Linked DNA regions of Homo sapiens. The protein of the gene in region 2 purifies or fractionates together with the protein of the main gene of each other region. This does not show direct contact. Each region holds a gene or a part of one and is shown on either strand. Other genes may lie near its edges.

The links.
Region 1: the proteins of SPECC1 (region 2) and CCDC61 purify together in Homo sapiens (tandem affinity purification; one study listed by IntAct). This does not show direct contact.
Region 3: the proteins of SPECC1 (region 2) and PCDHAC2 purify together in Homo sapiens (co-immunoprecipitation; one large-scale study listed by IntAct). This does not show direct contact.

Annotation. Positions count from the first base shown.
Region 1 is NC_000019.10:45,990,753-46,001,091, reverse strand, and holds the start of CCDC61 (centrosomal protein CCDC61), read right to left. Parts: upstream 5,626-10,339; 5' UTR 5,588-5,625; intron 1-5,587. UniProt on the Homo sapiens protein: Microtubule-binding centrosomal protein required for centriole cohesion, independently of the centrosome-associated protein/CEP250 and rootletin/CROCC linker.
Region 2 is NC_000017.11:20,005,840-20,016,054, forward strand, and holds the start of SPECC1 (cytospin-B), read left to right. Parts: upstream 1-3,519; 5' UTR 3,520-3,585; intron 3,586-4,323; exon of another isoform or gene 4,324-4,378; intron 4,379-4,681; exon of another isoform or gene 4,682-4,813; intron 4,814-10,215.
Region 3 is NC_000005.10:140,963,105-140,973,172, forward strand, and holds the start of PCDHAC2 (protocadherin alpha-C2 isoform 1 precursor), read left to right. Parts: upstream 1-3,371; 5' UTR 3,372-3,662; coding exon 3,663-6,227; coding exon of another isoform or gene 6,228-6,317; exon of another isoform or gene 6,318-6,376; intron 6,377-10,068. UniProt on the Homo sapiens protein: Potential calcium-dependent cell-adhesion protein. May be involved in the establishment and maintenance of specific neuronal connections in the brain.

The DNA.
Region 1 (10,339 bases), on a different chromosome or scaffold from region 2:
GGCTCCCAGAACCTATCAGCGGCGACACCGTCCGGGTTACCAAGGCGTAGGAGGCACCCACGGAACTGAACACCTGAGGAGCCGCACAGCATCACCGCCCCCACTCGTGGTCCCCAACTCCCGGGAGGAGACCGCACAGAGGAAGGGGGCCCGCCACACCGCATCCCCGCCGCCAACTCCCCTTTCCCCACTGCTCGGCAGAAACCCCCCATACCCACCCCGCGAAGAGCAGCCCCTTTCGGCATCCCATTGCCTTGTCCTTAGCCCCCACCCCGCCCTGATCCCAGACACTGAGCCACCGAATACTCTGCCTAAACTCAATTCCCCTTGCACACTTACACCTCTCTCACCTCCACAAACTTCACCCGCTGCCCGGCCCCTTCCCCTCCTCTAGGCATGTCCTAAGTGCTCAGTAACTGCTGATGGAATAAATCCCACACCCGTGCCAGCTCCACACGGCCTCCCTGACCCCAGCTGCCCGTCACTTGTCCCCCAGATGGCCACGGAATTCTGGACTCCCCTTCCCCTCCTCTCTGCAGAACCTCCCACTCCACATATTCCAGCCCAACCCTCATGCTACATTCCCCGGAAACCAGCCCCCTCTCTCCCGTCCAAAGCCCCTTCATTCCATCCTGCTCTCCCAGATTTGGGGGCAGGGAGGCAGCCGCACTCTCCTCCCTACACCAGCCACCCACGGTCTCCTAGGGCTCCCGCATATTCAACTTCAATGCACCCCGTTATTCCAACTGCATTCTTCCCGCATATTTGCTCAAGGTTCTGCTCCACACATCCCACTTTCAGCCTGTATTCCATCACTCCCATATTTCACCTGGATTCTGTTCCCTCCCAAATTGCTTGTAACCCCACCCCCAACCCCCACTCCACCCGCACACATATTTTCCACCTCTCTTCCCTTTAGAGAGCCCTCTCTGAACAACCCCTCCTCTCCACTGACCCCACCACCACCGCCACTTCTAGGATTCCCCGGACCCTGAGCCCCCTCTCCCCTCCCGCCGCTGACCCTGTCCCTCTACCTGCATCCTCCATCCTTGCTTCGGAATGACCAGTGGCTCATCCTGGTGGCTGATTTCATTCCAGTCCTGAGCCTCTCCCAGTTCCTCTTCTCAGCCTCTGCCTCCTTCCTGACCTCACGCATCCCAGCGGTGCCTTCGAGGCCCCGCCCTCACCAACCCATGACGTCACCACCCCATCCCTGCGAGCACTGTGCGGCTGCCCTCCAGGCCCCATCCTGGCCCACACACCTGACCCACTTCTCGGGCCTCATGACATCATGGCGCTGGCACACTTACACCCAGTGTTTCAGCCCCCAGCTCTCTCCCTCTCATCATTCACTAGGATGACCCCTTTCCTTTCCAGCGTTACATCACCACCCCTGGCTCCACCTTCCAAATGGCTCTCCCCAGATAGCTCACAGATTTCACAGCTCTTACCCCGGGGCCGGAGCTGAAAACTCTCCACGCTGGGCTCACCAAAGACAAATCTACATCACTACCTCCCATACCAGACACGGGCAAATCACTGCCCTTGGCAGCCCACACCTGATGGCTGTTTCCCCACACTCTGCAGCTCCCCACCACCGCCAACACATATTCCAGCCCAGCCATACCCTAGATGGGCTCTCTCCTGCAGCAGCCCTCCGCCCCACATTCACACGCGTGGCCTGGCCTGGATGACCCCCTTCCCGACCCCATTCTGACCTCACCTCCCCACCACGTGGGTGAATTGAGGCTGGATAGAACCCCCCCTTCACTGCCCCAGAATACAGACCAAAGCCTTCCACATTGTCCCCATAGACTGTAGAGACAGAGAAGCCCTCTGGGGAACCAAGCAATGAAATCTCTACGGTGCACACTGCGGCACCCCAGTTCCCCCTGGGGCATCAACTCCCTCTCCCACTGTCTCTCAAAGGCAAACTTTTGCCTTAGATAAGGACCATGCACACTTATTAACCCAATGAATGACTCACCCTAAATTCTGCTCTCTGGTGGGTATTATAACCATCCCCATTATACAGAGGATGAAACTGAGGCTTGTCTAGGATCCCACCATGAAAGACAGAAACATTCGTCTTCCTTCCCCTTACCCAGCTGACCTTCCCTGACCACCTCCTGTTTCCTCCCAGAACTAACCCAAATGCGGCCTCACACCTTAAGCATGGCACATGCTGCAGGCTGGGTACTTCTGGGTTCAGATTCCAGCTGCCTTTCTCCTTGGTGTGTCCTTGGGCAAAGTACTTGCCCTCTCTGGGCCTTCCCCCATCAGTAAAGCGGGATAATAAGAGCTCCTACCTTATAGGGTTGTTGTTGAACTAAATTATTTAGTGTATATAAGGTGCTTCAAACAGTGGCTGGCACTCCCTGTTACCATCTGTGTGATCTGTTGATTATTTGACAGACCAGGAGCCCGTGAGGGCAGAGCCATTTTAATCAATCTTGTATCTTCAGGGACTGCTTGTGAATTTAACGGGAGATGCCAGGGAATGGGGTTCTAGACACTGGGGATACAGCCAAGGTTTTCTCCCCTCGGCTCATTCCCTGTCATCCTCCAGGTCTCAGCTCCAATCCCCTCTCCTGCAGGAAGCCCTCCCTGACTCCCAGGCTGGGTCAGGAGCTGTCTCAATCACCACAGTGGCCCCAGCAAACTCTGAACCAGCCTAACAGTGTTTCTCACAGTGATGGCCAAGGAACATAATCCTTACCACAAGTGCTTATGAAAATGCAGCTTCCTAGGTCGGGTCCCAACTATACACAAGCAGAAACTCTGGGGGTGGGCCCAGAAATCTGCATTTCCTCCAAGTTCCTTCAGACACTAAAGGTTCCTTCTGCCCTTGGGCGCCACAATCTGCCCAGTTTATTCCCCCACCTCCGACCCTACCACCCCACACATGACCCTCCTAGTTCAGCAACCCTGCCCCATACCACAGGGAGACCCCAAAGGGTGGTGAGGACAGTATAGGAGAAGCAACACTTTTTAAACACCATGTGCTCTTCTAGGTGCTGGGTTCCATATTCACATGGAGTCAAACACTCTAGTGGGGAGGTCCAAGAAGCCCAGTGGATATAAACCAACAGTAATTGATGTGAGGACCGGGCACAGTGACTCACGCCTGTAATCTCAGCACTTTGGGAGGCTGAGGTGGGCAGATCACTTGAGGTCAGGAGTTCGAAACCAGCCTGGCCAAGATGGTGAAACCCCATCTCTGCTAAAATTACAAAAATTAGCCAGGCGTGGTGGCATATGCCTGTAGTTCCAGCTACTTGGGAGGCTGAAACAGGAGAATCACTTGAACTTGGGAGGCGTAGGTTGTAGTGAGCTGAGATGAGGCCACTGCACTCCAGCCTGGGTGACAGAGAGAGACTCTATCTCAAAAAATAATAATAGGCCCAGCGCAGTGGCTCACGCCTGTAATCTCAGCACTTTGGGAGGCTGAGGTGGGTGGATCACCTGAGGTCAGGAGTTTGAGACCACCCTGGCCAACATGGCAAAACCCCGTCTCTACTAAAAATGTAAAAATTAGCTGGGCATGCTGGCATACACCTGTAATCCCAGCTAGTTGGGAGGCTGAGGCAGGAGAATCACTTGAACCCAGGAGGTGGAGGCTACCGTGAGCCGAGATCGCGCCACTGCACTCCAGCCTGGGTGACCCGCAAGAGTCCATCTCAAAAAAAATAATAATAATAATCTATATCAGGTAGTGGTGTTATGAAGAAAAATAAAGCCAAGTGAAGGGCCATACAGTGACAGGAGTTATTTTAGCTTGAGTAGTACTTTAGCAAATGCCTGGTTGTGAAGCTGACGTCTGAGCGGAGACCTGAAAGAGGTGTGGAAGAAGCCACACAGACACCTGAAAAGACCTGATCCAGAAGGACAGGACAGCGAGTACAAAGGCCCTGAGGTGGCAGTGCGTTCAGGGACAGCGAGTACAAAGGCCCTGAGATGGCAATGTGTTCGCTATGTTCAAATGACAGCGGGGAGGCCAGGGTGGCTGCAGCAGAGTGAGCCAGGGGAATGAGAGAAGTGATGGGAGTTGAGGGGAGGGAGGAGGAGGAACCCAATAGGTTGGGGCCTCGTGGATATGGTGAAGACTTTTGCAGTGTAATGTGGGAGCCAGGAGAGGGTTTGAAAGGAGAAACAACCTGACCTGACTTCTGTTCTACTAGTATCCCCCTAACAGTGAGAGGCAGAGAGCCCACCTGGAAGGCCACTGCAACAAACCAGGTAAGAGCAGGAGACAAACTGAGGCCAGAGTGGTAGCAAAGGAGCTGGTGAGGCATGGTTGGATTCTGGATGTGTTTTGAAGACAGAGCTAATGCGATCTGCTAGACCATATATAAGTAAGACAAAAGGGAGAAGTGAAGAAGACTCCAAGCTAGCCAGGCACGGTGGCTCACGCCTGTAATCCCAACACTTTGGGAGGCTGAGGCGGGTGGATCACCTGAGGTCACGAGTTCAAGACCAACCTGGCCAACATAGTGAAACCCCTTCTCTACTAAAAATACAAACAATTAGCTGGGTGTGGTGGCGGGCGCCTGTAATTCCCTTGAATCTGGGAAGTGGAGGTTTCAGTGAGCCAAGATCGCGCCATTGCACTCCAGCCTGGGCTACAAGAGCGAAACTCTGTCTCAAAAAAAAAAAAAAAAGAACACTCCAAGCTTCTTGATCTTAGTACCTGGCAGGATGAATGTCCCATCAACTGGGTTTGGAGGTTGAAAGGAAGAAATCGCAAGATTGGTTTGGGACAAGTTTATGTCTGAATGTCAGATGAACTTCCAAAGAGAGAAGAGTCGGCCATGATATGAGTCTGGAGTTCAGGGCAGAGATCCAGGCTGGAAATACACACGTGGGAGTTCTCATTAGATAAAGAGGGTGAAGCTAGCCAATGGTATAGACAGAGATGATGTCATTCTACTGATGATGAAGCTGAGGCACAGAAGGGTTAAACAACTGGCCCAAAGCCACAGTAATGATCAGTGGCAGAGCCAGGATTCAAATTCGGGATTCAACCCGACGCCAGAGCCCACATTCTTAACCATCAGTAGAGTAAGTTTAAGAGTTAATTCACCTAAAACACTTGGCAGGTGCACAGCACATAGCAAACGCCACAGGCATAATAGGGCTTCACATCTCTTTAAAGTACATGCTCATCCCTGGAGGTCTCCTTCCCTCCCTTCCTCAATATTGCTTCTTCCCACGACTTTCACCCAAATCAAAGCTTGTAAAGCATAGTGCGCTGTAATAACCCTCTGCCTTAAAACCTCCTACTAAATCGCCACGCTGCATTCCAAGGACGTCTCTATATTTTACCATCTGCTGTCTCCTGCTTTACAACTTTCCCCATTGAAGACCCTCCTGCGATATACAGATCACCCCCAACTCACATGCTGCGCTCAGCCTCACAACCCCTCAATCAAGCGCCTACCCTTGTTAAAGGGCACCCTCCCTCCCGATTCCTACAAGGCCAGGTCAGCTGCCCACCGCAGCCCACTCTCCCCCGAGAGAAGCCCCTTCCCCTCCACCTAAGACCTCCACCACGGCCCGCGCAACCGCCACTCCCGCGGCCTCTCACCTTCTCCACTAGCAACCCTCCTCGCGAGCGGTTCAACTGACGAAGCTCCAGCCCCGCCCCAGGATCCGGCGTTCTCGCTTCTGATTGGTCACAGCTTACCAGCAGCCAAGTTTCCATTAGCCAAAAGAGACGCCCATCACTCTGTCCCTCCCCCAGAGGAGAACCCGCCCTCCAAAACTTCCAATTGGCTAACTAAGAAGAGGCTGTCCCAAATGGGTTGGGGGAGGCACCTAACGTCGGGCTCTTCTCTAATCACTACTGGCTAATAATGCTGCCAGTCATACAAAAAGGTTGTTCCCCAGAGTGGAAGGGAAAGAATCCCGGAAGTAGCCCCTTGACTCCACCTATTACCCCCTGCGGGAGGGTAGGCCGCGCCCACGTGGTGGGGAGGGCCTGGAAGGGAGAGCCGGGTGTGCATGCGCATGGGGAGATAGTGGCCGCGGCTCCGGAAACTGGGGAGTGGTCTCAGCATAAAGACAGGTTGAGATTTGTCATCGCTTGGTGCATTCCAAACCTGCACTAAGCATTTTGCAGGACTTGGCTTATTTAAACTTTATAACAGCCCTGCAAAGTTATTATGATTTCCATTTTACCACTAAGAAAACAGTCTCAGAGAGGTATAGCCACTAGCCCGGGTTCACACGGCTTTTGAACGACCCATATTTTAAACCGATCAGTCATGAACTGGAAGGATCCAGCTAAAGGAATTGAGCGCGGGGATGGGGGAGGAGGGACCTCTTTAAGAAAGGAAAATAAAGTTTAAAGAAAAAAAAAAACTGACATGAAAGTTTACTTAGAATATGAAATAATAACAAATTACATATTTAAAAGAGCCAAATACCACAAACATTGCAAAATCCCAAAGGATAACGTAATGTTTTTATTAATTTTCTGCCTGACACACCTCTGTGATGTTTCCTACTTTTTCAGCTGCATGTTTCACAATATCCTTGTCTACAAAGAGAAAAGTAAGTTATCTTTCCTCTAGCGTGGTTGATGGAACTTTTTAAAAATTCATTATAATTTAGAACAAGTTTCAGCTTCACAAATCAGTATTGGTGATGTTATTGAAGTCTTTTGGAAATCTAGAAAAACTTCTGGCCAGGCGCGGTGGCTCACACCTGTAATCCCAGCACTTTGGGAATCACGAGGTCAGGAGTTCGAGACCAGCCTGAACCACCTGGTGAAACCCTGTCTCTACTAAAAATATAAAAAATTAGCTGGGCGCAGTAGCGGACGCCTGTAATCCCAGCTACTCAGGAGGCTGAGGCAGGAGAATCACTTGAACTCGGGAGGCGGAGGTTGCAGTGAGCCAAGATCGTGCCACTGCACGCCAGCCTGGGCAACAGAGTGAGATGCCACCTCCAAAAAAAAAAAAAGAAAAACTTTCATAAAGTTTCATTCACATGTTAACTATGTTTTGGAAAATGTTTCCACAGACTAACTTCTGGCTCAATACTTTCAATTTTTTGTTTGTTGGTTTCTTTGTTTGCTGAGACAGGGTCTCGCTTCATCGCTGGGCTGGAGTGCAGTGGCATGTTCATGGCTCACTGCAGCCTTGAACTCCTGAGCTGAAGTGATCCTCCTGCCTTACCCTCCCAGGTAGCTGGTACTACAGGCACACGCCATCACATCTGGCTAATTTTTTTTTAATTTATTTTTAGTACACATGGGGTTTCACTATGTTGCCCAGGCTGGTCTCGAACTCCTGAGTTCAAGCAGTCCTCCCACCTCAGCCTCCCAAAATGCTGGGATTACAGGTGTGAGCCACCGCGCAGGCTTCCTTTCAATTCCTGACATTTCTGTTACACAGATGCTTCTGGAATGAGCCGCTAAAAGATACATTCATGCCATTTAGTAGGCTGTGGCCTCGCATCTAGTGAGTTAGTAACTTACACAACAGAAGCATTCCGGGAAGCCATTTCTACGCCATGACAACTAATTAGGTGGTTTAAGTATCCGAGAAGTATCTATGAACCACATAAAAATATCCCTGTAAACCCAATCTAAATGTATTCTCACTTCACCTTCCCCTCAGCTAAATCCCATAAATGCCTGCACTCCAGCTTGAGTGACAGAGCAAGACTCTGTCTCTAAGAAAATAATTAATAAATAAATAACAATTAAAAAAAAAGGAAACATGGATTAGAATCTGAAGGCTTTCCCTTGCCAGCTGTGAGACCTCCCACAAGTCATGCCTCTTCTGGGAACTTCACTTTCTTCATCTGTAAGTGGAGTTCAATTCATTGCTTCACTTATTTCTTCACTCACTTGTCAGGCCATTTATTGAGCACCTGCTATGTTCCAGGCACTTTTCTGGGTGCTGGAGGTAGAAACATCTGGTAACAAACAGGAAAAGCTCATACCCTAGTGAAAGGAAGGCAAATAATAACATATAGTAAAGAAATAGGCCAGGCGCGGTGGCTCACGCCTGTAATCCCAGCACTTTGGGAGGCCAAGGCAGGCGGATCACCTGAGGTCAGGAGTTCAAGACCAGCCTGGCCAACATGGCAAAATTCTGTCTCTACTAAAACTACAAAACTTAGTTGGGCATGGCGGTGCATGCCCGTAATCCCAGCTGCTTGGGAGGCTGAGGCAGGAGAATCGCTTGAACCCGGAAGGCAGAGGTTGCAGTGAGCTGAGATCAGGCCACTACACTCCAGACTGGGCCACAGAGCGAGACTCCATCTCAAAAAAAAGAAAAAAAAAAAAAAGAAAGAAAGAAATGTCCAGGTCCGGGGTGATAAGTGCTACAGAGAAAATAAAGCAGAGTGAAGTGGATGGAACTGGGGGTTAGAGGGGTGGGAAGATGTCTCAGAAAAGCTGATTTAGAGCAGAGACCTGAAGCAAGTGACTGAGCCAGGAATTTATTTATTCATTTATTTATTTTGGAGAGAGAGCCTCACTCTGTCGCCCAGGCTGGAGTGCAGTGGCGCCTGACTCACTGCACCCTCCACCTCCCAAAGTCAAGCAATTCTCCTGCCTCAGCCTCCTGAGTAGCTGGGATTACAGGTGCCTGCCACCAGGCCTGGCTAATTTTTTTGTATTTTTAGTAGAGATGGGGTTTCACCGTGTTGGCCAGGCTGGTCTTGAACTCCTGACCTCAAGTGATCCACCTATCTCAGCCTCCCAAAGTGCTGGAATTACAGGTGTGAGCCACCACACCCAGCCTATTTATTTTTTTTATTTTTATTTTTATTTATTTATTTATTTATTTTTGAGATGGAGTCTCGCTCTGTGGCCCAGACTGGAGGTGCAATGGCGTGATCTCAGCTTACTGCAACCTCCACCTCCTGGGTTCAAGCAATTCTCCTGCCTCAGCCTCCCAAGTAGCTGGGATTACAGGCACATGCCACCATGCCTGGCTAATTTTTGTATTTTCAGTAGAGATGGGGTTTCACCATGTTGGCCAGGCTGCTCTCGAACTCCTGAGCTCATGTGATCCACCCGCCTCGGGCTCCCAAAGTGATGGGATTACAGGCGTGAGCCACCGCTCCTGGCCAAGCCAGCCTTGAGGGTACCAAGGTGGACCATTGCAAGAAGATGAGACAGTGAGTACAAAGGCCCTGTAGTGGGAACATGCCTGGTGTTTCTAAGAAACAGCAAAGACATCAATATTGAGTGTGTGGAGTGTGACAGAAGATGATGTCTGGGAGGATGCCTGAGACCAGGTTATATAAGGCCTTGTCGGCCCTTGTGAGGCCTTTTGTTTTACTCTGAGTGAGGTGGGAGCCATCGAAGGTATTAGGCAGAGAGGACATAATTTTACTCATGTCTTTTTTTGTTTTTTTTTTGAATCAGGGTCTCACTTTGTCACCCAGGCTGGAGTGCAGTGGCTCCATCTCGGCTTACTGAAACCTCAGCCTCCCTGTTTCAAGCAATCCTCCTGCCTCAACCCCGCGAGTAGCAGGATTACAGGCATGCACCACCACACCTGGCTAACTTTTGTATTGTTAGTAGAGACGAGGTTTCGCCATGTTACCCAGGCTGGTCTGGAACGCCTGAGTTCAAGCAATCCACCCGCCTCAGCCTCCCAAAGTACTAGGATTACAGGGGTGAGCCCCACCGCCTGGCCTACTCATTCATGTCTTCAATGATCATTATGGTGGCTGCATTAAGAATAGGCTGTTAGCTACTCGGGAGGTTGAGGCAGGTGGATTGTTTGAGGACAGGAGTTCGACACTGCACTCCAGCCTGTGAGAACCGATCTCTAAAAATAAAAATTTAAATTAAAAAACTTAGGCTGTTAAAATAATGTGGACATGGAAAACAGCCAGTTTCTCAGAAAGTTAAACAGAATTAACACATGACCCAGCAATTACACTCCTAGGTGTATACCTGGGAATTAAAAACTGGTATTCAAATACTTGTACATGGATGTTCATAACAGCATTATTCACAATAGCTAAAAGGTGGAAACAACCCAAATGTCCATAAATCTATGAGCAGATAAGGCCAGGTGCAGTGGCATGCCTGTAATCTCAGCACTTTGGGAGGCCGGGGCAGGCGGATCACCTGAGGTCAGACGTTCGAGACCAGCGTGGCCAACATGGCAAAACCATATTAGTCTCTACTAAAAATACAAAATTAGCCAGGCATGGAGGCGCATGCCTGTAATCCCAGCTACTCAGGAGGCTGAGGCAGGAGAATTGCTTGAACCCGGGAGGCGGAGGTTGCGGCAAGCCAATATCGCGCTACTGCACTCGAGCCTGGGCAACAGAGCAAGACTCCATCTCAAAAACAAAAGAAAAA
Region 2 (10,215 bases):
GGAAAAATAAACCAGGCTGACTTCTGGTTTCATTACAGCAACACTCAATTCTAGAAGACAATACTTATACATTCTTCAATAAATAAAGTATAACCCAAGAATTTATACTCAAACTTTTACAGGATAAAGGCAACAAATATTTTTAAACATGAAAAACTCAGGGAATATAATTTTCATAAGTTATTATTGTTATTTTAAAGAGATAGGTTCTCACTTTCTTGCCCAGACTGGGGTGCAGTGGCACAATCAGAGGTCACTGCAGCCTCAAACTTCTGGGCTCTAGCAATCCTCTTGCCTCAGCCTCCTGAGTAGCTGGGACTATAGGCACACGCCACTACGTCTGGCTAAATTTTAAAATTTTTTGTAGAGACAAGGTCTCACTATGTTGCTCAGGGTGGTCTTGAACTGCTGGCTTCAAGCGATCCTTCTACCTCTTGTCTCCCAAAGTGCTGGGATTACAAACGTGAGCCACCACACTCTGCTCTATAAATTATTCTTAAGAAACTAAAGCAGGATCATAACTTACCACAAAATGGGTTGGGGAAAAAACTATGGCAAAATAACTGTTAATAATACTTCTGAATCTTTTAACTGTAGGAGTGGAACTAAAACAAACGTGGGATTATGGTTACACAGCAGAATGTATGATTTTATAAACCTACTAACGTGGAAATGGTATAATTAACATCTTTTATATCTAGGAATCCAAATATCTCATTCAAAGCTGATTTAAAAATCAAGTGATAAAGATATTTATAAATGTAGTTAATTAAAAAAGCAAATACTAAAGAAGGATAAAATCATTTACATTAGGTGAGGAGAAGAAAAGGGGTAAAGAAAAAAGAGGGAAATTACAATGTCATTTTTATTCAGAATAGGGAGTTAACAGACAGTCTGAAGAAACTGAGGACGATGTGTATTGCGGAGTATGATTATAAGGCAACTCCCTGAATAAAAATACAAACCTTCCAAATTATCAGAAGAAACACAAAACACAATAAACACAAAATATGCAATGCAAGAGTGAAAAAAGGACCAAAAGGGCTATGAAACAGCATAATATAGCTGTCACATGAATAGGGCTCAACTCATCTATGGCAAGATAAAGATTTTCAGATTTAATCACAAAGCAAAACTTAGTGCTCTAATTCAAGGGATTACCTAAAATAAAGGGTTCAGAAAAGACGAAAACAGCAAAGGTTGTTTGGGGTAACAAACAAAATTCAGCAGGATGGTAAAATATCAGACAAAGTTAAATTCAGGGCAAAGTTTGAACACATTAAATGAGACAAGGAAGGTCATTTTATGATGAAGTGGGAAAATTCCCAAGAATATAAGACAAATGAATATTTATGCACAAATAACATGGTACTATTTATAAAGCAGGACTTCAGAGAAATAAGGAGAAATAAAAACACAATAGTAACAAAAGATTCTAATTTACCTTCTTCCGATTACGTTAGATCAAAATACGTCTAAAAAATAAAGGAGAAAAAATATTTTAAAAAGAAGAAGAAAAAAGCTCCAGTATAACCAAAAACATAAACCTAAGAGCTGATTCTTTGAAAAAAAAATACACTTTTAAAAGTTAACAAAATAAAGAAGCAAAAATACACAAAATAAGATATTTGGGAGAAGTTAAAAGATTCACAAAAGACTACTTTCCTCAACTTTATGCAAATACACTTGAACATCTGGAAAAAAAGGATAATTTGTTTTAAGAAATACATGCTTTATCAAAATTAACTCTAGAATAATTTTTAAAATGTAAATAATAAAATTGCCACAGAAGAAACTTTTCTAGCCTTAAAAGATTTACCCTCCCCAAAGAAAGCATCAGGCTGGGAGGAACATTTTTAACTGGGAAATGATCAAACCTCAAAGAATAGATAATTTTAATGCTCCTTAAATTGTTCAGAGTAAAAGGAAAAAGCAAACATGCCCATTTTTTTTTCTTTTTTTTTTTTTGTAGAGATGGGGGGGTCTCACTGTGTTTCCTAGACTGGTCTCGAACTTCTGGCCTCAAGCACTCCTCCTGCCTCGGTTCCAAATTTTTTATGATGTGAGCATAACATTGATTCTGAAACCAAACAACATTAGACATTCAAAAAGAAAATTATTGCCCATCTCATTTTTGCATATCAATGCAAAGCCTGTAAATAAAATATTAGCAAACAGAATCAAGCAGTATATTTAAAAAAAAAAGACAAGTTTATTGCAGGGATAAACTGGGTTTTTATTAGGAATTTATTATAACTAGGACTCATTACTTCAATATGAGGAAATCAGCTGTCACCCGGTTTGCTCGTCCTTACAGACATCTCCCTCCTCTTCCTCTCTTCCTTTCCAGTGAAAATGTCTTCAAGTTTCCTCTACCAAACCAAAACTTCACCCCACTTCTTTTATTCTTTCCTCCTCTCTTCTCAGAACAAAGGGGTTGTTGCTGACCAGCCCAGGGTTTCTTATTTGGGGCCGGATCATTCTTCCTTGTGGGGCAGTCCTGTCCTTCAGGTAGGATGTTGAGGAGCACCCTCGTGTCTACCCACTTAGGCAACAGTAGCAACTCCCGCATCATGACAACCAAAAATGTCTCCAGACCTCCCCAAATGTACGCGGGGCGGCGAGGAGGGGCAACACCGGCCCTGGTCGAGAACCGCTAGCCTAGGCTCGCCCCTCTACCTGGGCGCCACAACTTGCCAGGGTTGGTTATTCTCCCTGGATCCTTTCCTTCCTCCTCATTTGAGCTTCACGCCCTCAAGTATGACCAAAGGTTCTGTCATTCCACTCCTGCAGTTTTCATTAAGGTCTTAGGCCACTTCCATGTCAAGAAACACAGTGGCTCTTTCTAACCCCTGGCCATGAGGCACCCCTGGAGGAGGAGCCGTGAGGGTAGGGAAGATGCTGAGGGGGATGTTGACCTTGCCGACTTCCAGGCGCCTCCGCTGCATCCCGGAGGAGGCGTTGGGCGGTGAGGGTGCAGCGGGGGGGCGGGCCCCGCAGGATGAGGTGTCCGTGTGCGGCTAGCGCCACAGGCAAGACCGGGCTCCTTGCGGGGCGGAGGTGAGGCCGTGAGCATAGCTCTCAAACTGGAGGGCGCCTCAGAATCACTTGACGGGCTTGCGAGAATGTGGACTGCTGGGCCCCACCTTCATGGTTTTAGTGCAGGAAAAACCGAATAGGCTGGGTGGGACGGAGAATCTGCATTTTCTCAAGTTCCCAGATGAGGCTGAAGCTGCTGGTCCGGGCACCACCCTTAGAAAACCTCCAGTGTAGAGTGCGGAAATGGGGTCCACATCTGGCTTGGGACGCCCAAACATCGATTATGTGCGACCAGAGGATGAGCAGATAGGGAGATGAGACACTGAGAGCTGGGAGAGAGGGGGCCCCCGGCCGCCGGCTGAAGGAGGACGGCGCAGGCGGCGGTCCGGGTACTACATCTCCCAGCGAGCCCCGCGCGGCTCGCGCTCGCCCCCTGGCGGCGATGGCTGGAGGCGCCGGCGGAGCGCGGGTCCCTCTCCTGAGCATCAGTGAGCGCCCGGAGCCGTGGCCGCTGGGGGTTGCGGCGGCGCTGAGCCAGCGGGGCCGGTGAGTACTAGCCGCGCCGCCAGCCCGCCCGCCGGCCGGCTCTTTGCGCCTCAGCCGCGTGGTCTGAAGGGATGGGCGGGCGAGCGCGGGGGTCCGGCAGTCCGTCGTGGGGGCACGGGACTGCCTTTCTGGGAAGGCGTGCTGCGTCTTCGCCGCGGGGGCCCCGGTCCCCTCGTCGCGTGTCCTGTCCCCAGCCCAGGAGGGACGTCCTGGCCTGTCCTGCCCGGCCCGGAGCGGTGGGACCGGTGCCGCAGGTGGCAGCGGCAGGTGGCCGCCTCCTCCCCTCCGGGCCCGAGGGTTGTCGCAGGGACCCGGGACTGAGAGCCAGGTGGCTCCCGACAGCTGCGGCCCTGGAGGCGACCCCAGCCCTCGCCGCAGTGGGACAGGTGCGCGGGCACGCCCGGCCCCGGCTCCTGGGTCTCGGGAGCCTCCCGCACCCTCCCTGTTGTGCCTTGGGGGTGCTGCGTGGTGCAGAGGACCGAGAAGCCCTTCGCCCTCGGCGTCCGCCGCGCTCCCGCCCCTTCCTGGCCGGGGTGACAGGGGAAGGGCTAGGGCTGCGCATCCCGGGTCAGCTGGGGCGCCGCGGCGCAGTGCACCTGGAAGGCCCGGGGGCAGCGCGCGGTGCCCGTGGGTTTCCCGGTGGTGCGGACCTGCGGGCGTGCGGAAGTAACGACCTCCTTCCCCAGTGCCCATGCAAGGAAATTAGTGTTATGTGCTTGCTTTTTTTTTTTTTTTTTCCTAAGGAAGTTTGACTCTGAATATCTTATTTTGCTGGAGCTCCATTTGCCAGCACGTAAGTTTATGTAATAAGCGGCATACAGTTCGGAAAAAAATTTTCCTGTGAAAGTGCTCTTCCTTGCCCTCTGCAGGAAGAATTACGCCGAGCTGGTTGGCAGGCTTATCCACCAGCAACTGTAGGAGCTGCAGGCAGCAGATAAAGTGTTTTTTGAGTAAGGGCACAAGTCAGCCCTTCAGGACAATTTTTGTTTTTGGAAGATTCTGTTATCCAGTTCCAAACACCGTGTTATTTCAGTGTTGAAGATGGGGGAGGAGGGAGGAGCACAGGCTTGTCAATCCTAATACCTCAACAGAAATTAGCTTTGCAGGATTAACTCTCCAAGCAAGCGAGTTGAATTTGGTAGCCCAAACTACAGCTGAAGCTGAGCCTCCATACTAAAGCCTGTCTCAGTTTTAATAGTTTTTCGCTTGATTCGTTTGCCTCTTCCAAGTAGGTGATCTTATTGTCTGTTAAACAACAGATGTCTCTCATGTTTTTACTTTTTTCCTTGTCTTCCATAGATTACTCTCGCTGCAGTGTTGACTATTGAGGTTAAATAGGAATCTTTGTCTTGGGCTTGGTTTTAGGGAGCATTCCCTCTGTATCTTCACCGAGTGTATTCTATCACATTAAGTACATTTCTGTTTATGCCTAATTACTAAGAGTTTAAAAAGTCAAGGGTGGGTGTTGGGTTTTTTGCCCAAATGCTTTTGTGTAGCATGCATTGATATGATCATGTAGATTTTCGTCTTAAAATTGTTAACATAAGTGGTGGTCACATTGCTAGATTTTCTTTCTCTAAAACCCTGGGCTAATTTAAAATGCACTTTTGGATTGTTCACATCAATAAGCTAGCATCTTATTTAGGGTTTTGGTATCTGAGTTTGGCATATAGTTTACCCCATTTTTATCTGTGTTCATAACAAGGATCAGGCTGTCCTCTCTGATTAAATTGGGAAACTTTCCATCATTTTCTATGCTCTGGAATAGAAGAATTATCTGTTCCCTCAAGTTTGGCAGAACTTGACTGCAGACTGCCTGGGCTGCTGCTGGTGTTGTTTAGGCAGTTAATATCAGTATTTAATTACCTTTTCATTTTTTTCATGATCATTTATTTTTCTCAGTTTTTCTGTTTCTTCAAAGTAAATTTAATATTTTCTGTTTTCCTAGAAAATCATTAACATTATTGAAATTTAATATATGCTAGCATAATGTTGTATATAGTATTCTGGTGTAAGAAAACAGACTCTTACATATCTGTATGTATCTGTATGTTCTCTTTCTGATACAGTACTTTTTTTGGTACCTTTTCTCTTTTTTTTTGATCAGACTTGCTTAATGATTATTTTATTAATCCTTTCAAAGAACCAGCTTTTATTAACCAGGATTTATTGATTAATTCTATTGATTTTTTATTTTTCTATGACATTAATTTCTGTTTTTTATCTTTCTACTTAATTTGAGTTTATTTTGTTCAAGTTTTAACTGTTTGAATGGAAAACCTGGCTCATTTATTTAATCAGTCCTGTGAACAAGGCAAGGACTTCTAATTCTTTCATTCCACTTACCTCACATTTGGCCTTAATTGTATTTTTACTTCAACCCTTCCAACGAGACATTATTGCTATTGTTTTTGTTATTTTCTAGGTCAACATTTATTAGCTTTATCTACCTGTTTACCATTTCTTCACTTTCCATTCCTTCTTGTATCACAGATACTTTTCTTTGGAACATTTTTCTTCTCCCTCAAGTACATTCTTTAGAAATTACTTCAGCAATGATCAATTTTCTGTTTTTGTAATATCTGAAAATGCCTTTATTCTCCCTGTATTCTAGAATTTTGGTTTCACCATGTGTCTTCTATTGATTTCAGAGTTATTTTTGTATTTTTTTATATTTTTAAAAAGATGTTTTGTAGCTGGAAGGTTTTTAGGATCTCTATTCTGCCACAGTGCTGAAAGAAAAACAAAGATTAAGAACAGATTAATTTGCAGTCCACTGTCAGTCACGACTGTTCCCTGAACTCTTAGTATATTGGGTATACAGTTCTATATTAATCTCAAGTTTATTGATGGTAATTCAGGTTTTCTGCATCCTTAACTTATTTTTTTTCTCTGTTTGACCTGTTGATATGGAGAGTTGTATTGAAGACTCCCATTATGATTCTTGTAGGGGTTTTTGTACTATTTCTATGTTTAATATATATTTTTCTTTAAATGTTGTATTTTTGAAGCTGTTTTATGTGCTTAAAGGTTCACAATTCTTGTATCTTCTTGGTGAATTGTACCTTTTGGGAATAAACGAGCCATCTTATTTAATTTTTTTTTTGTTCATTCTCTTTATATTGCTGTACTTGCTTTTTGTTAGCATTTATATGGAATATCTTTTTCTAGTCACTGATTTTCAATTTTCTGTGTCTTCTTTAATTGTTACTCTTACCATTAGCTTATGGCTGGATTTTGTTTAATTAGTTAATCTTTGTCTTTTAATAAATATTGTGGTAAAATAACATAAAATTTATTATTTATTATTTTTATTTTTACCATTTACTACTTTTAAGTTTACAGTTCCCCAGTGTTAAGTGTGTGCACATTGTTATGCAACCAATCTCCAGAATTTTTTCATCTTACAAAATTGAAGCTCTGTATCCATTACCGCAGCCCCTGGCAACCACCATTCTGCTTTTTGTCTCTATGAATTTGCCTATTTTAGGTACCTTGCATGAGTATCTAATATAGTACCTCATATAGTATTTGTCTTTTTATAACTGGCTTATTTCATTTAATGTAATGCCCTCAAGGTTCATCCATGTTGTAGCATGTGTCAGAATTTTCTTCATTTTTATTGCTAATTAATATTCCATTGAATGTATACACCACATTTTGCTTATCCATATATTTATCAAAGGATATTTATGTTGGTTCCACATCATAGCTATTATGAATAATGCTGCCATGATCATGGGTGTACAAATATCTCTTCAAGACCCTGCTTTCAGTTATTTGGGTATATACCCAGAAGTAGAATTGTTGGATCAAGTAGTACTTCTATTTTTAATTTTTTGATGACCCAGCATAGTGTTTTCCGCAGAGGCTGAACCATTTTATATTCTCACCAGCAATGCGTGAGAATTTCAGTTTCCATACATCCTTGCTAACATCTGTTATTCTCTCTCTTTTTTTGATAGTAGCTATCCTTATGGGTGTGAAATCTTTGTCTTTTAATAGGTAGCTTTAGCCCATTTATATTTATTTTGATTACTGATCTTTTGCGGATTATTCCTGTCATCTTATTTTATATTTTTGATTTCCTTTTTTGAGACGGAGTCTTGCTCTATCGTCCAGGCTGGAGTGCAGTGGCACGATCTCCGCTCACTGCGACCTCCGGCTTTCGGGTTCAAACGATTCTCCCAACCCAGCCTCCCGAGTAGCTGGAATTACAGGCCTGCAACCACTATGCCCGGCTAATTTTTGTGTTTTTAGTGGGGACAGGTTTTAACCGTGTTGGCCAGGCTAGTCTCAAATTTCTGACCTCAAGTGATCTGCCTGCCTTACCCGCCCAAAGTGCTGAGATTACAGGCATGAACCACTGTGCCGAGCTGGTTCATTTCATTCTCATTGCTGTGTATATGCCATTGTATATATCCCTAATATAGATATACATTTGACTTTGATTGGCAGTTGGTTGTTTGCATTTTTGGACTATTATGAATAGTAAGTACATGAACACTCTAGTACACGTCTTTTGTTGAGTGAGTGTGTGCATTTCTGTTGAGTGTGTATCTGGGAGTGGAACTGCTTGGTTGTAGTCTGTGCATGTGCTCGGTTTTAGTAGATACTAGCAAACAGTTTTCAGTACCGGTTGCACCAACTTATTTACCCCAGAAGTATATGTGGTTGCTCCACATTCTTGCCAACTCTTGGTAATTTCTGTCTTTTACCTTTTAGTTATTCTGGTGGATACTGTGGTTTTAATTTGGATTTTCCTGATGATAAATGAATTTGCACTGTTTTGGTACCCTTAGTTTTTCACACATATCTAAACATTTTTTTCTCTTGCTATTAAAAGATAATCTGTTTATGTGAACTCTCCATGAGTAAAGCAAAAAAGAATCTTATCATGATTTTAATTCTGTCCCATATTAAATTTTTGGGTTTTCATACATTATGCATAAACAGTTATTTAGGTAAACTGTAAATTTTTCTGATTATTTACTCATCATTGGTGCTTTTATTTCATTTGTTTTCTTAATGAGTCCTTAAGTGATTATTTGGTTTTGTTTTCAGGGATTCTGTGAATGGTAAACTTTCTGAACCCTTGCATGTTTAAACAATGTTTTTTATTTCACTTTTCCATGTGAATATTCTTGACTGGGTATAGGATTCTACGTTAAAACCTTCTGAATTTTGGAGATATTGCTTTATCTGCTGGTATCTAGGAAGAAGTGCACGCGTCTGACTCTCGTTTCTTTGTAGTTAATGTTTATTTTCTCTGAAGCTTTACAATTTTTTTTCTTTCTCCTTGGTGTTCTAAAATTTAACTATTATTTGTCTAGGAGTGGATTTTTTTTTTGAGATGGAATCTTGCTCTGTCACCCAGGCTGGGAGTGTGGCATGATCTCGGCTCACTACAACCTCCACCTCCTGGTTTCAAGTGATTCTCCTGCCTTAGCCTCCCAAGTAGTTGGGATTACAGATGTGCACCACCATACCCAGCTAATGTTTGTATTTTTAGTACAGACAGGGTTTCACCATGTTGGCCTGACTGATCTCAAACTCCTGACCTCAGGTGATCCACCTGCCTCGGCCTCCCAAAGTGCTGGGATTACAGGCATGAGCCACTGCGCTTGGGCACCACACTGGCTTAAGAGTGGATCTCTTTTGTTCTTCCTGCTCAGCATTTGGTAGTCCGTTTCATTCTAAAGATTAATACACATTTCTATGGCACTGGAGAAGTTTTGAGTGTTTCCTTGCCTCTATTCTATTTTCTGCTTCTGGAATTATTCTTACTTGGGAATTAGAATATCTTGATTTATCTTTCATGTTTCTTGAAATAAGCATTTTTTTCTCTCAAATATTCTGTCTTTTTTAATTTAATTTTTTTTTTTTTTGAGACAGAGTATTGCTGTGTTGCCCAGGCCTGGAGTGCAATGGTGTGGTTCAATGTGACCTGCAACTCTTGGACTCAGGCAATTCCCCTGCCATACCACTGTGCCCAGCGGAAATGCTCTCTTTATCTTTATGGGCTGCATTCTGGGATGTTCCTTGGGCTGGTTTTGCAGGTCACCAATCTAATATTTAGATTTGTTCCGTCAACTCTTTAGCCCATCTCTTGAGTGTTTTTAAATATTGATTATCATATTTTTAACTTTCCGGGTCTCTATTTTTTTTTTTTTTTTTTGAGGTGGAGTCTCGCTCTGTCGCCCAGGCTGGAAGGCAATGGCACTATCTCGGCTCACTGCAAGCTCTGCCTCCCAGGTTCACGCCATTCTCCTGCCTCAGCCTCCCCAGTAGCGAGGACTGCCGGTGCCCACCACCACGCCCGGCTAATTTTTTGTATTTTTAGTAGCGACGGGGTTTCACTGTGTTAACCAGGATGATCTCGATCTCCTGACCTCGTGATCCGCCCGCCTCGGCCTCCCAAAGTGCTGGGGTTACAGGCGTGAGCCACCACGCCTGGCCACGGGTTTCTACTTCTTAAAGTTTAACTTTTGAAATAGGTAAGATAGGCAGGGCGCAGTGGCTCACGTCTGTAATCCCAGCACTTTGGGAGGCCGAGGCGGATGGATCACGAGGTCAGGAGATTGAGACCATCTGGCTAACATGGTGAAACTCCGCTTCTACTAAAAAAAA
Region 3 (10,068 bases), on a different chromosome or scaffold from region 2:
TGCTTATAATTAAAGAGATAATATTAAATTATTTGGATGAATTTAAAAATGACACATGCCATCTTACAGATATGCTGTAGACTGTGAAAATGAAAAAAAAAACCTCGTGTTTAGAGTAGACACTGTTTGATGGATTAGGTAGGTTTTCATCTGGACTTTGAAATGTATGTAAGATTTTATAAGGAGGAGAGAAAATAAGAAGCTGTTTGTATTAGAATTACACAGATAAATTTGTAAATTTAGTTCTTTTCAAAGAACATTAATTGAGCACCTCTGTGCCAAGCTCCCTACTGGATGCTGTAGATTACAGCATGTTTAGGAACTAACTTCATACTCTGTTGCTAAAGTATTTCTGTGTTTTCTAAAAAGGTAAATCTCTTGTGAGGAAACAAATCTCTTGAAGGGGTTCTCATAACAGAAGTCCCATTTACTTCATGATATAAAAAGGGGCTGTTTTCTGGTTTTGTTCTCAAAATGTAGGATATAGTTCTAGACGTAATTGGGAAAGCTTAACTTTGTTGCATACGCATCTTCCCTATCATGGTTGATTTCCTATATGGCATAGTTAAATGTGTTTATCCGTGTTTGATATCTAAAGGGCCATGCTACATATAGACTGCCAACTAAGGTTTTATCTGATGATAATAAATTGTTGTATTTCATGACGACAGCAACAACAACAATAATGTACTTAACTAGTCACTGTGCAAATTGCTTTACATACATTTTCTCATGTAATCATAATAATAACCGTATGAGTTTTGCTTACTATTGTTTTCCTTAATTAAAATGAGTAAAGTGAAGCTTAGGCTAAGTAACATGTCCATAGCCAAACAGTTAGTCACTGGCAGGAGTGTGACTGACTCCAAAGTCTATATTCCTAATTACTGTGTTCTACTTTTTAATAGAGAGCTCTTGAAGGTCCAAGGAAAGGAATGCATAATGGTGTGGTCAAGGCATTAGTGTTAATATTTGTAGAAAGGGTAATTAACAACAGTCTGAGCAATCACATTCTAACAACTAGTAAGGTTGGCAGGAGCCTCAGTATAATGGTGTGAGGAACGAAATCATTATAGTGCCAAATAGAGTATACCATCTCTTTAGTACAATGTCTTTCAAAATGAGGCTGATTGTGTTGGCTTTATATTTGACTCCTTAATAATTAAGGCAGTAAATTCTAGCTGGAGCTAAATACCTACAAGGCCTAAAACAGCATAATGGACAACCTGGCAGGTGTCCTTGCTGGAAGATGACAAGAGTGCTGAAAGGAGAGTCCTGGTTTTTCTCCCAAGACATGACATTTGGGGGCTTCCATTAAAAAATTACCAAGCCTCTGCCACTGTAATCTCTTCCTTAAGTGCCTATGATTTTTTCACAGTCACAGGTCTATGCCTGGTCAATACCCAGTGGCCAGGTCTCTGAGCTGCGTGCAGAGATGGCAGCGACTTGGAGGGCTGGGAGGAGATAAGGGGAGGAAAGATCACTTTTCATGACAACTTACAACTTGATTCCACTTATAAGCCATTTATTTTCAGAAACAAGTAATGGGTGAGGACACAGGCCAGGTCCACAATTTGTGCACTTGAGAGATTAAGGCCTCCGAGATCAAATTACCACAGCAAACTGAGACAGAATTATTGTAGGGATGTTTGGGGAGGATGCAGAGAGAAGAGGAAGAAGCCAGAGACCCAAGAAAGGAGACAGGAATAGATTTTGATGAAAATTGCTTCCTACTCTGTACCCTTGAGGAAACAAAGAGGACAAATAAGAAGCAGCAGTGATAGGAGGCTGGGCGCTTCTCTGGAATAACACTGGCTAGGTAGTGGAGCATTGATAGTGAGTGTGCTTGGTTGGTGGAACGAAGGGATGTGCTAGTTCAGGCCTTTGAATTCTGGGTGTCAGGATCACAACCTTGGCTCCTTTAACTGTCCGCTCTAGGAGGGAAGCATGCCAAATGTCAGGTCTCACTCTGACTTTGTTCCAGTCCATAGCTAGAAAATGACCCATAGAGGAAGATCTACAGATGACAGAATACTGGGAGATGAAGAGAAAGGACGTTTTAGTGAGTGCTTTTTTTGCACATGAGGCAATAGATTTCAAATTCCTGTGGAAGAAATGTGAGAACCTGGGAAGAGTGAATATTCAGAACTGAGCAGCAGAGGCAATGACACAGCATGGAAAGATTTCCTCTGATCCTTCTACCTTCTCTTTTACTGAAGTGAATTTGTTGTCTCTGTGTTGCCTCTATAGCAGTACAAGAGGAAACTTGGGGACACAGAAGAACAGAAGTCTAAGGAGTCTTATATTTAAGGAAGATAAGCTGCAGTCATTGAAATTGCTGGTTATTGTAAGATAAATCCCAGACTCCCACATTTTGCTTAATGACAGCAGATTTTTTTTTTTTTTTAACTGCAAAGCATTAATGGAATCCAAATTCCAGCCTGGCTTAGGAGATCAACAGTAACGCTCTTGATTTAATGGTTTTGCAGACTCTTGAAGACATTGTCATCCATTAAAGAAAAAATTTTAAATTACTCTTGAAAGAAAATGTCTTGGGTGATAAATGTAAAAGATTTGAAGCAAGATTAGAAAAAGCTTGAGAGAAGAATCTCTTTAAAAATTTTACCAGATTTTCCCCATTGTCGCCAAAATGGGTCAAATAATAGATTTGCCTACAGCTTCATGGAGACTATTTTTTTAAACAGAGCATTTTAAACATTTAAATATTGGTTATTTGCCAAGGCACACACTGAAAATAAGGGCCACTTGGCCGAGAGCAGAATTGAGTCTTGGATCCCAGGATGCTGGTTTTAGGCTTGCTCCCGGAAAGAGGGCAGCATTTGCCATCCCCCTCCTTTTGCCCTAGGAGTTGAGCACTTTCTGCAGTACTTAAGAGTGTCCAGGGAAGATGTGGGAGTCAGGTGAATAGTTCCCATCGCCAGTAACCCCAGAGCGCCTCCCCCTGCGTTGTTTCCTTTTAATGTTAGATCCGCCGCCTGGGTGCCCATACTTAGCTAAGGCCCCTCAGTTTATTTTCCTGAATTGCGCTTGGAGATCTTTTCCTGGGGAGCTGATAGCCAGACTTCTAGGGGCTTGACTGCTTTTCCCAGACTAATCTCCTTAAAGACCCGTTAAGCAGGGGAGAGACGGTGGAGACTGGATGAACTGGACAGTGGGGGTAGGGAGAAAGGGAGTGGCCGTGTTCCTGCGGTCCGCTGGGATCCGGCAGGTCCAGGGTGAAGGAGATGGGGCTGGAGAGGCTGAGCAGTCCGGGTTCGCTGTCCGCCACTTCGGCGCGGAATCAGAGCAGGACTTGCTGAGCCCTCCTACCGCTCCCTTTCCCCCTCCCCCTCTGTCTTCCCTTCTGTTTCCTTTTCCCTCCCCCTGGAGCTGTAGCGGCAGCAGCAGCAGGAAGCCGAGCCGGGTTGAGCGACTCGGAGGCGAGCGGAGGAGCTGGAATATGGGGAGTCAGCGAGGACGGTGGGGCCAGGAGCCCTTGGGAGGGCCTACGGAGGGAGCGGCCCCAGGCGCTTTCTAGAGCGTGAGCGGTGGGGGAGCAGGCGCAGGGTGGCACGAGCGGAGGCGGGGCCCGGGCGTGGGGCACGGCTGGGGAAGCTGCCGCCTCCGGCCCTGCCCGGCTGCCTCCGCCGCGGCCAGTGGCTATGGAGCAGGCGGGCACCAGACCTGCGGCGACAGAGCATCCACGGCTCCGGCGGCCCATGCCCTGGCTGCTGCTACTGCCTCTCCTGCTGCTGTTGCTGCTGCTGCTACCTGGCCCTGCGGCCTCCCAGCTGCGATACTCTGTGCCAGAGGAGCAGGCACCCGGCGCGCTCGTGGGCAACGTGGCTCGCGCGCTGGGGCTTGAGCTGCGGCGCTTGGGGCCGGGTTGCTTGCGCATCAACCATCTGGGTGCGCCCAGTCCGCGCTACCTGGAGCTGGACCTGACGAGTGGAGCGCTCTTCGTCAACGAGCGCATTGATCGGGAGGCGCTGTGTGAGCAGCGGCCTCGCTGCCTGCTCAGCTTGGAAGTGCTGGCGCACAACCCCGTGGCGGTGAGCGCCGTTGAGGTGGAAATATTGGACATCAACGACAACTCACCGCGTTTCCCGCGGCCCAACTACCAGCTTCAGGTAAGCGAATCGGTGGCGCCTGGAGCGCGCTTTCACATAGAGAGTGCGCAGGACCCCGACGTGGGCGCCAACTCAGTACAGACCTACGAGCTCAGCCCCAGCGAGCACTTCGAGCTGGACCTTAAGCCCCTGCAGGAGAACAGTAAAGTGCTTGAGCTGGTGCTGCGTAAGGGCCTAGACCGGGAGCAGGCAGCCTTGCACCACCTGGTTCTCACAGCCGTGGATGGGGGCATCCCAGCCCGCTCGGGTACGGCACAGATCTCTGTGCGTGTCCTGGACACTAACGACAACTCTCCTGCCTTTGACCAGTCCACTTATCGCGTCCAGCTACGGGAGGACTCACCCCCAGGCACATTGGTGGTGAAGCTGAATGCCTCAGACCCGGATGAGGGCTCCAATGGTGAGCTCAGGTACTCCTTGAGCAGCTACACGTCGGACCGGGAGAGGCAGCTCTTCAGCATAGATGCCAGTACCGGGGAAGTGCGAGTAATTGGGGGGCTGGATTATGAGGAAGCCTCCTCCTACCAGATCTATGTGCAGGCGACTGACCGGGGTCCAGTGCCCATGGCAGGTCACTGCAAGGTGCTGGTGGACATCGTGGACGTGAATGACAATGCCCCAGAGGTGGTGCTCACGGACCTGTATAGCCCAGTGCCTGAGAATGCTACACCCAACACCATTGTGGCCGTTCTCAGTGTCAATGACCAAGACTCAGGCCCCAACCGGAAAGTGAGCCTGGGTCTGGAGGCCACACTGCCTTTCCGACTGAATGGCTTTGGAAACTCCTATACACTGGTGGTGAGCGGCCCACTGGACCGAGAGCGGGTGGCTGTCTACAACATCACGGTGACAGCCACAGATGGGGGAATACCGCAGCTCACATCCCTGCGTACACTGAAGGTTGAGATCTCTGACATCAATGACAATCCACCAAGCTTCCTGGAGGACTCCTATTCCATCTACATACAGGAGAACAATTTGCCAGGTGTGTTGCTCTGTACTGTGCAAGCCACAGACCCAGATGAAAAGGAGAATGCAGAGGTGACCTACTCCCTTCTGGAGAGGGAGATTCAAGGGCTGCCAGTCACCTCCTATGTCTCCATTAACAGTGCCAGTGGCAGCCTTTATGCTGTCAACTCCTTTGACTATGAGAAGTTTCGGGAGTTCTTTGTGACTGTGGAGGCTCAGGACAAGGGGAGCCCACCACTGAGCAGCACTGTGACTGCCAACGTATATGTGGTGGACATGAATGACCATGCCCCTCACATTCTGTACCCTACCTCAACCAACTCGTCAGCAGCCTTCGAGATGGTGCCTCGAACTGCCCCTGCTGGCTACCTGGTCACCAAAGTCATAGCTATGGACTCAGACTCTGGGCAAAATGCTTGGCTTTTTTACCATCTAGCCCAGACTTCTGACCTGGACCTCTTTAAGGTAGAGCTGCACACAGGAGAAATTAGGACTACCAGGAAGATGGGAGATGAGAGTGGTAGCACTTTCAACCTGACCGTGGTGGTCCGAGATAATGGAGAGCCATCACTATCAGCCTCTGTGGCCATTACAGTAGCTGTGGTGGATAGGGTTTCCAAAATCCTCCCTGACACTCAGAGGCATGTTAAGAGCCCTCGGACATACTCTGAAATTACCCTTTATCTAATAATAGCATTAAGCACAGTGTCTTTTATATTTCTTTTGACAATCATCATTTTGAGCATCATCAAGTGCTACCGCTACACTGCGTATGGCACTGCATGCTGTGGAGGCTTCTGTGGAGTAAGGGAAAGGTCCCCTGCAGAACTGTACAAACAAGCCAACAACAATATTGATGCCAGGATACCGCATGGCCTCAAAGTGCAGCCTCACTTCATTGAAGTTCGAGGGAATGGCTCCCTCACCAAGACCTACTGCTACAAGGCCTGTCTGACAGCAGGCTCAGGGAGTGACACTTTCATGTTTTACAATACAGGGGCCCAGACAGGACCAGGGCCTTCGGGAGCCCAAGCAGCAGTGACTGACAGCAGGAATCTCACAGGCCAAAGTGGTCAGAATGCTGGGAACCTGATTATTCTCAAAAATGAGGCTGTTTCTCAAAATGAGGTGAGACAGTGGTCAGGGGGTCTTCTACAAACTCATGCATTTGTTACACATCCCCCAATATCCTGTGATTTGGCTTTATTGAGTCATTAACAGTGACAAGAGTTATCTGGTAAACTGAGTATATATAGTATCCACAATTTGATCATAATCTGCTATTTCCTCTCTAGAAAAATAGCACTAAAGAATTGTTTTATTTTTCATTTTCAGAGGCATGAAGCCTTGTCCATAAAATTGTTTGAGAAGTGAGGATTAGTCTTAATATTTAATGCTAAAACACAGATTTGTAGAGAAACAGGACAGGCCTTGGAATAGGGATTATGTTTTAGGGAGTAATGTTATGAGACTCAAGGAGAAATGGCCTCTGCTGTATCATCTACAGGGAAATTTTTCTTTTGAAATCCTATATGAGTGATGTTTCTTAAAAAGCTCTGAGGCCTCTAGGGGCTATCATAGTCACCACTATCTGCTGTCTCTGTTTATACTCTGGACTGTCTACAGTGGAAATTATCTAGTTAATATTTCTGGTACTTGCACTGAACCTATGTGATAGGATCCTCTGGAAATGCATGTCACAAGTGATAAAGCTGTAGTATTTAGACATCATACTGAAGCTAAAGTTTGCTTTGGCTGTATGATGTGGCAACTCTTCTGTAGAGGGCTGTCAGAGGGAGTGGATGATGGTGAGGCAGAGAGATTAAGTACCAATTTGTCTGGTTGGTCCAGGGAGGTATTAGAATGAGTGGATTAGGGGTGTGGGGGGATGGTGAAGACCAAGAGAAGCTGGGATTAGAAGGAAGAGAAGGGAAAAAGAATTCTCCCAATAGTCACCTTTCTTGGCATACTCTGAATTCATTGTAAGAGGATTTCCCTGAATTTAGCTTAAATGCAGCCTGTAATCTTCTGATTTTCTGTTGACAGTTTCTATGGTTTTGATGAGATGTAAAGTAGCCTTTTCAAGTCCTTCATGTCTTTAAGTTAAATGACAGTACTTCCAAAGCATGCATTCATTTTCTGGATCTAAAATTTGATTTGCTATAGCTTCAAAAGGCTGGCTTGGAAAGTGGATGGCTTACCCTACAGTAAGGTGTAGAGGCAGGTGTTAGTATATGCACTAGTTTTGAGATTTAAGTAGGTATAAGGCCAGCTTGTTCATTATTATGAAGAATGTACATAAATTATTAGAAAGTAGATGAATATGTGTGTGTGTTTGTGTTGTGTGTTCGTCTCCATATGTATGCTTGAAATAACAGAGATATGCTTTGTGATACTTAAAACTTGGATTTCAAAAGCCAAAATTTTGTACCATAAATAGTGATGAATTGTTATCTTTCCAAATAACTACTTTGTAGAAAGGGCTTTTAGAGCTACTACACAATGTGTGAACAATATTTGTCTCTCCTCTATTTTTTGCAATATATTTTCATTGACATATTGCTGTACATACATATTGTATGTAATATCCATATTGTTACATTTCAAGTTCATGGTAATCTTGAGGAATGTAATGCACAGGCACAAAAGTTCCATTCCTGATTGAGAGTAGATTTTTCTCATGGACATTTCAGATAGATTTATTCATTTATCAGAAGTGCCTGGTGTTAGTCAATGCTGAGAAACCATGGGAGGCAGATTGTAGATTAAGAAAAATGGGGGAATAAATCAAAGAGTTTCCAGAAGTCTTTAGATCGTAGCATTTGAAAGCACGTAAAAGGGTTTAGCTTTAAATAAGGTTGCTGTAGACATTTGCTTAACAAATTCTTGTGAAGCCCTTTGGGATTGGGGTGGGCTACAGGTGGTGAAGAGGCATGAACAAGTCAGGCCAGGCTCAGCTTTGCCACCAGCTGTAAGCCGGAAGCTCAGAGGAAAGACACTGTTACCCTCCCTCTCCTGACTCAAAGCTTGGGGCAATTTGATACATAAACTATTTCTGTCTTACACTGACCTGTATATTAATATGTACTTTGGTACACAAACATTTAATCTAGGGAGAAAATTATTTCAGAAAGTGCTTGCTTTTGGGAGATTTTGCCAGGAGAGTGCATGACTTTAATAAAGGCAAATTTCTGCCAGGCACTTTTGGAAATCCAGTGAAGAACCCCAAGATCTACAGCTCCAGAAATTTTTGCAGTTATAGGGAGAGAGTGTCACATTGTTACAGTGTGGCAAGATAGGAGCAAAAGCCACTCAGTTCTGAAAGTCATCATTGCCAGATCAACCTGTTAAATTCCCATGTTGGGCTTTCTTTTTTTCCTACCTAGTTACTACAGATGGCAGGAGAGTCCTGGGGTACAATTAGTACCATGTGCCTACATTAAAAGTAGATGGGAATTAGAGAGGAAGAGTAAGGGAATTTGTACTCACTAACCACCCTGCTATATAGATATATGTATATCATACATATACACATACATATATCTCATATTACTGAATCTTGAATATTATTCAAGATTATTCAATATATTGAATATTATAATATTGAATACATATATGATTTCATTACCTGCAAGTCATGCGTTAAATATTTGTTAACATCTAGCATATGAGGAAATAAGCTCAGGGAGGTTAGGTAATCTACACAGCCACACTGCTAGTGTTATTTTAAGTTGTATCCATCTGACTCCAAAAACTTTTTTTCAATACTATGAGTAGACAGAAGTTCCAATGTTTATATTCCCTTTTATATGGGATATTCAGGCATTTAAGCTATCACTAATTCACCTAGTCGTATATATTAACTGCTTTTGGAAAAAGAGTAATTTCTGGCATAGAAGCAGGTAACAAATGGGAATATCAGTGAGTTACTACTATTTTTTTATTTTTATTTTTTTGAGACAGAGTCTTGGCCTGTCACCCAGGCTGGAGTATAGGTGTGAATATGGCTCACTGCAGCCTCGACCTTCTGGGCTCAAGCAATCCTCACACATCAGCCTCCTGAGTAGCTTGGACCATAGATGTGCGCCACCGTGTCTGACTAGTTTTTAGGTGTTTTTTTTTTTTGGAAGAGATGGGGGTCTCACTATGTTGCACATGCTGTTAGTATATTTGTATTTGTTTATTTGCTTCACTATTGGCAAACCCTGTTAAGATCTTTTATTTTTATTATTTCACTGATTTTTCTCTTGTTGCTTATTAAACATCAGCATTTAACCCCAGACTCTAATCTGTTGGTAGATTTTACCCCCAGTGAGCTTATTTCATAAATCACTTGTGCAGTGAGGATTCTGAAGTAACTATTTGGCAATAGGGCAGAATTTCTCTTTGGAAATTTCTGAACTTGATACTGAATGTTGTTGGCACTCCCTTCAGAGTCTCCATAAAAAGAAACCAAATTTTTTTTTTTTTTTTTTTTTTGAGATGGAGTCTCACTCTGTTGCCAGGCTGGAGTGCAGTGGCGTAATCCCGGCTCACTGCAACCTCCGCCTCCCAAGTTAAAGTGATTCTTCTGCCTCAGCCTCCTGAGTAGCTGAGATTACAGGCACGCGCCACCACGCCTGGCTAATTTTTGTATTTTTAGTAGAGATGGGGTTTCATCATGTTGTCCAGGATGGTCTCGATCTCTTGACCTTGTGATCCACCCGCCTTGGCCTCCCAAAGTGCTGGGATTACAGATGTGAGCCACCATGCCCGGCAAAGGAAACCAAATCTTAAGGTAGATTCTGTGCATTTGTGGTCGTGGTGTTGTGATTGTTAATGAGTCACTTTGAGTACTCTAGTAGATTTGTCCAACAGTGTCTCAGTGGGCCCAGCTGGCACAACATGTAGAAATTATGAAAGAGTAGCAGAGATGAATTAAGTTTGCATTCACTTTCACTTATTTTAAAGCAATTTGTAGTCACCAAAC